Regions from separate parts of the Homo sapiens genome. Here region 2 is linked to region 1. Evidence: fine-mapped expression QTL. A gene starts in region 1. The other region holds a variant in brackets. All regions are shown on one strand. Distances are from middle to middle.

The links. PIP is the estimated chance that this variant, and not a neighbour inherited with it, causes the effect.
Region 2: its variant is fine-mapped to the expression of NAA80 in whole blood (TOPMed, PIP above 0.99).

Annotation. Positions count from the first base shown.
Region 1 is chr3:50,298,032-50,300,928 of GRCh38, reverse strand. It overlaps NAA80 (N-alpha-acetyltransferase 80, NatH catalytic subunit), which reads left to right and starts at 1,524. Exons shown (of 2, transcript NM_001200016.2): 1 at 1,524-1,716. It overlaps HYAL3 (hyaluronidase 3), which reads left to right and starts at 1,524. Exons shown (of 4, transcript NM_003549.4): 1 at 1,524-1,716. It overlaps HYAL1 (hyaluronidase 1), which reads left to right. Exons shown (of 4, transcript NM_033159.4): 4 at 129-1,036. The coding sequence ends at 446. RefSeq lists an enhancer at 1,791-1,930.
Region 2 is chr3:50,244,396-50,247,292 of GRCh38, reverse strand. The region is part of intron 1 of GNAI2 (G protein subunit alpha i2); the gene reads right to left. Among named protein-coding and RNA genes, the nearest start is that of GNAI2, 9.6 kb to the right of the region's middle. RefSeq lists enhancers at 223-938, 1,107-1,206, 939-1,654. The variant A/G (reference allele first, on the strand shown) is at 1,288.

The DNA of each region.
Region 1 (2,897 bases):
GGGGTAGACCCTGACTTACCCTTTCTACCTGCAAAGTCCTGGCTGACCAGCAGGTGAGTGCCTCAGTGCCCTGGGTGGGTCCATACATGGCCATGGTGTCCCTGACGCTATCCTCCCTTCCCACCTAGGAATCATGTCAGGCCATCAAGGAGTATATGGACACTACACTGGGGCCCTTCATCCTGAACGTGACCAGTGGGGCCCTTCTCTGCAGTCAAGCCCTGTGCTCCGGCCATGGCCGCTGTGTCCGCCGCACCAGCCACCCCAAAGCCCTCCTCCTCCTTAACCCTGCCAGTTTCTCCATCCAGCTCACGCCTGGTGGTGGGCCCCTGAGCCTGCGGGGTGCCCTCTCACTTGAAGATCAGGCACAGATGGCTGTGGAGTTCAAATGTCGATGCTACCCTGGCTGGCAGGCACCGTGGTGTGAGCGGAAGAGCATGTGGTGATTGGCCACACACTGAGTTGCACATATTGAGAACCTAATGCACTCTGGGTCTGGCCAGGGCTTCCTCAAATACATGCACAGTCATACAAGTCATGGTCACAGTAAAGAGTACACTCAGCCACTGTCACAGGCATATTCCCTGCACACACATGCATACTTACAGACTGGAATAGTGGCATAAGGAGTTAGAACCACAGCAGACACCATTCATTCCATGTCCATATGCATCTACTTGGCAAGGTCATAGACAATTCCTCCAGAGACACTGAGCCAGTCTTTGAACTGCAGCAATCACAAAGGCTGACATTCACTGAGTGCCTACTCTTTGCCAATCCCCGTGCTAAGCGTTTTATGTGGACTTATTCATTCCTCACAATGAGGCTATGAGGAAACTGAGTCACTCACATTGAGAGTAAGCACGTTGCCCAAGGTTGCACAGCAAGAAAAGGGAGAAGTTGAGATTCAAACCCAGGCTGTCTAGCTCCGGGGGTACAGCCCTTGCACTCCTACTGAGTTTGTGGTAACCAGCCCTGCACGACCCCTGAATCTGCTGAGAGGCACCAGTCCAGCAAATAAAGCAGTCATGATTTACTTAGCTGTTTACTGAGCGCCTAAAATGTCCAGGCCCCGGTATCCAAAGGGCACAGGAAAGGCTTGTCACTCTCACCAGATCTGACGTCAGTCTAAGGGCGGCTGCTTCCCAGGGTGGGGCCCAAATTTCAAGAGGAAGCCCCACCTGATCGGACCGTTTCCAAGCTGTCCTGGGGCAGGAGGCCGGCGGGAACCGAAGCTAGACTTGTCAGAGCCTGGGGCGGGGCTGGCGGAGGCAGAGCCAGCTGGAGGCGGGGCCTGCGCCTGGCTGAAGTGACGTGCTGGGCTGGGGCAGGGCCTGGAAGAAGCCAAATCGAGGCGGGACCTAAGCTGTGACGCAAGGAGAAGGAGGAGGGGCCTGTATGGGGCCGGGTGGGGAGGAGGCGGACTCAAATGGAGATGGGGTGGGGCTCAGCAGGGGCGGAGCCAGGGTAGAGACTGAGTCGGCGCCTGGCGGGTGTTGTGACGCGCAAACCAGGGGCGGGTTCTAAGCGGCGACGCGCGGGTGCTGGGAGGCCTTAGAACGCCGTGGCGTGCCGCAGGACGCGACGGCTGCAGAACATCCGCCGCACCGCTGGGGGCCAACGTTGTCGGACCGAGGAGTCCGAGGTGGCGACTGAGTGAGATACCCAGCTGTGCGGAGCTAGGACGCGGAACATCCCAGAGGCCAGCATCAACATGTCAGTACCGCACCCTTCCCATTTGCTGCCTGTAGGTCCACCCCGCGCGTGCGGTCCCCAAGTGGCCATGCCACCCTGCACGCCCTCCCCGCGTCAGTCGTTCGTTTCCAGACCATGCCGAGCCACACCTGCCCACAGAGTCGAGCTCTCGAAGTCCTCATTCCCAAAAGCTCCACAGCCTGTGACCCACTAGGAGGGAGGGGGAAACCGAGGCCCGGGAGAGACGGAGAAGCCACTCTCTGAGGACCCCGGAGCCCCGCCCACAGTGGGTGGGGTCGGCACTGAAGGGGTTAAGGCCGCGGGGAAGCCCCGGGCTCAGCCCTAGGGGCGGATCCTGGGGCTTCCTCCCTCTAGACCAAAGGGTGCGGCTGCTGCAGAGGTGGCTGATGCAGGTGAGGGGCTTACAGCCCTGTGAATGGTGTGGGAGGTGAGGGGAGGGGGGTGCCTGTTACTGACCAGTGTTTAATTGGCCTCAAGCTCAGGAGAGGTAAGGGGAGCCAGGAGGCCCCCTCTGGAGCAGGTGAGTAGAAGGAGGGGGCTCAGCTGCCCGCCCACGACTAGAAAACCCCCAGCATAGACCTGCCGGACGGCAGGACCTTGGTTAAGATGGGAAAACAGTAGGGTTTGGGCACAGGAGGTCTGGGCCCCCAACCTGGTGACCGTTGGACACCCTGTGGATATAGGAAGGAAGCTGTGGTCCTTATCTAGGGTGCCTGCGAAACTCAAGCCAGTGGGGAACCAAGCCTGCAGAGGCAATACTGCTGTGTGACTGTGGGCCAGGCCCAGTGCTGGTGCTGCTGGGGCCCCATCTGAGGAGACAGTTGGGTCTATATCCAAAGTGTCCTGAGATGGGCAGAGTTGGGAAGGGGGCCATGGGCTCCAGGTGGGGAAGGCAGTCAAGACAGGCCAAAGCTCAGCCTGATGGGTGCATGAGTGGGGCCCCAGGATCCACTAAGGCAGTGGGCATAGCCCAGGTAGTTGAAAAGGCTGGGAGCTGGAGGAGACTCGGAACATAGGGAGAAGAAAGGGACAGGAAGACTCCCGGGCAGTTTTTCCTATGGAGGGAACCTTGGGTAGGTTTGAGCAGGGGGTATAGTGTCTGCTTTGCATCTTCTATCCCATGCCCTAGTGGTGGACTAGGAGGACTACTGGAAGACAGAAGGCCAGCAAGTAGATTGGGT
Region 2 (2,897 bases), 54 kb after region 1:
TCCACTCTGATCCTTCCTGAGATCCTCAAGAGCTTCAGCTCCTTTCCTGCCCTTTCTCTGGCACCTCATCTGTGAAATGGGACAACGCTGTCTCCTTCTGAGAGATGGGTAAGGATTAAATGCAAAGCTCTTCTCACAGTGTGGGGCACATGTGAGCATTCAGGTAAAAGTTATCACTATTTATCTACCCTTTGAAAGAGTACAGATTTCCCCAAACCTCTCATTTCCTGCAACCTGCAGAGAAGACTGCTGTGGTCATCTCATTTGAAGGAAAGCTTCTGAAGATTTTCAGATAAAGAGCAGATGAAGAGCAATGGACAGCGGCTAACAGGCTGATTCAGAGCTGTGGTGGTTCCCTGCTGGGACTCAGCATAACCTGGGACAGGAGTCAGAGCTACTGGCTCCTCTGTTGGCTTTCCGCTGTGTCGTCACTTCCCTTCAGTATAACCCGGCACTCCTACACAGCTGGGGCCTCCTTCCTGCCCAGGAGCCTCACTGCTGACATTGCTCACTGGCTGCACACACCCAGAAAGCCAGGCACACCTCCCTGGAGAGAACCCCCATACTGGTGGGCTCCGTGGGAACACGTGGGGCCAGGAAGAGCAGCCAGCTGACGTGGCAGGCCCGAGGGCAGAGATTCTCAGAAGCAGCAGCGGCTGGGACCACAGGGTAGACTTGGGCAGCGGCCCAGCTCAAACCCACAACACCAGGCCCGCCCACACTGCCACAACTCCCCAGCCTATCCCAGTGGGATATGGTGGGGCAGGTGGGGGTAGCCCTGAGCCCACCACAAAGGCAGCCCGGACACCACCTCCTTCTCTTATCCCAGGAAGGTGCCACATCTCCAGCTCAGCCTGTGGTTCTCAGATCCCGTGCACCCCCACGTCCCCTGCAGTCCTAGGGACCCATGCCCCGCCACCACCAGGGGGCGCCCGGCAGCCGGAGACACTGTGGAAGGAAGTGGGGGCTGGGCAGCACTGGGGAGCGTTTTGTTTCAGAAAAGCAGCCTCAGCCAGGGGCGACTGGGGAAGGTGTCCCACCCACCAGCCCGTCCCTGGGAAGCCCCCAGCCTGCAGAGACTCGGCACACACAGAAACCATGGCAACGGGAGGGAGGGGCAGAGACCCCGCCAGACAAAGGCCCTCTGAGCCCCGCCCCTGGCGTCTCTTCCTTCCTCCAGGTGCTGCTCCCCGGCCCCCCTCATTCCCTCCGAGAAGGCTCAGCACGGGTCCGGCACTGGGAGGCAGGGACTCGAGGTCTTGAAAGGGACCGGCAACACTCCCACCC[A/G]TGTGTGTGGCATGGCCCTATAACGGATGCCTGAACAGACCAACAGACTCCACACCTCCCTCCCGCCAGTCTCTGGCACTCGGCTGCCTCCAGCGGCTTCCAGGGGTTCACAGTGCCCAAAGGGGAGCACTACCAAGCAGGGCCTGGCTTCCTACTGCCAAGTCAGAGATCTCTGTGTTAGGGAAACTGAGGCCTCAGGTCCTGCCCACACATGGGAAAGTCTTTCTGGGGCAAGGTGTGTCTCCCTCAGTGGGGCCCTTTCCACTGCACAGAGGGAAACTCAGGCACCGGGTGAGGAAGGCTGGCCTGATATAAAGGAGGCCCCAGACCTGTTCATCGCTGGCGCCTCAGGCCCCAGGTACCGCCTGTGCAGGAGCCAGGAGGTGCTGGACAAGACGCGGATCACGCGGAGCTGGGCCATTTGGCACCGTCTCCCTGGAGGCCTCTTCATTTCAGGCATCCCTCCGCTGTTCCCAAGGCACCTGAATGACCTCTTTTCCCTTCTGATTCATGGCGGTGGACTCTGGGAAAGATAACGGGAGCCTAGGCCTCATCTATGAAATGTACCCCTTGAGGGAGGGTGCCAAACCCAAGGCCTGCCCTGAGTAGCCTCTTCAAAGTCACCCCAAACTGCCTCAGGGCCCAACCCAAGCCAGCAGCTGTCCTTGTGTCCACAGGCCAGGAGACCATGCTAAGAATCACGGCACTGGCGGGGCGGGGTGGCTCACGCCTGTATTCCCAGCACTTTGGGAGGCTGAGGTGGGCGGATCACCTGAGGTCAGGAGTTCGAGACCAGCCTGACCAACATGGAGAAACCCTGTCTCTACTAAAAATACAAAATTAGCCGGGCATGGTGGCACATGCCTGTAATCCCAGCTACTCTGGAGGCTGAGGCAGGAGAATCACTTAAACCTGGGAGGCGGAGGTTGTGGTGAGCCGAGATTGCATCACTGCACTCTAGCCTGGGCAACAAGAGCGAAACTCAGTCTCAGAAAAAAAAAAAAAAAATCACAGCATCACAGATTCTAGTGCTGGATACAGAGAGGGAAGAGGACAGTCTGAGGTCTCATGGTGAGGAACTGGACCCTCTGGGACCCACAGTCTTGGGTGGCCATGAGGATGCACGGGTCTCTGCTCTGTGCATGGCTTCATGGCCCAGAGAGGCTTGGACGCTTCTGCTCTGGCTCTCCTAAGCCTTCCTCAGCCCCCTCAGTCCCTTACGGCCTGGCCTGGCAACACAGCAGAACCCCTAGGAACCCCTACAAGAGAGGGCAAGGCCCCACTAGGCCACAGCACTGAGATTCGGAGGCCAAGGAGCAAGAGGAACCAGCCTCAACAACTATCATGCAGTCATCAGCCAACACCATGGCCACATTCTACCACCACACAGTACCGTACGTGCACCCAGCACTGAGCCTGTGCTCACAGTGCAGCCCTAAGGAACATGCTTTCATTTCACTCCTCTGGACAATTCCCAGTCTCAGAGGCCCTCACCATGGACTTCAATAGCTTCTGAGCCTTCCCCAGGCTTGGTCTCAGTCTAAGACTGGGGCTTATGGGAGAACAAGCATAATATTAGGGAAAGAATGAAGTCCTAAATTGCCAGCTAT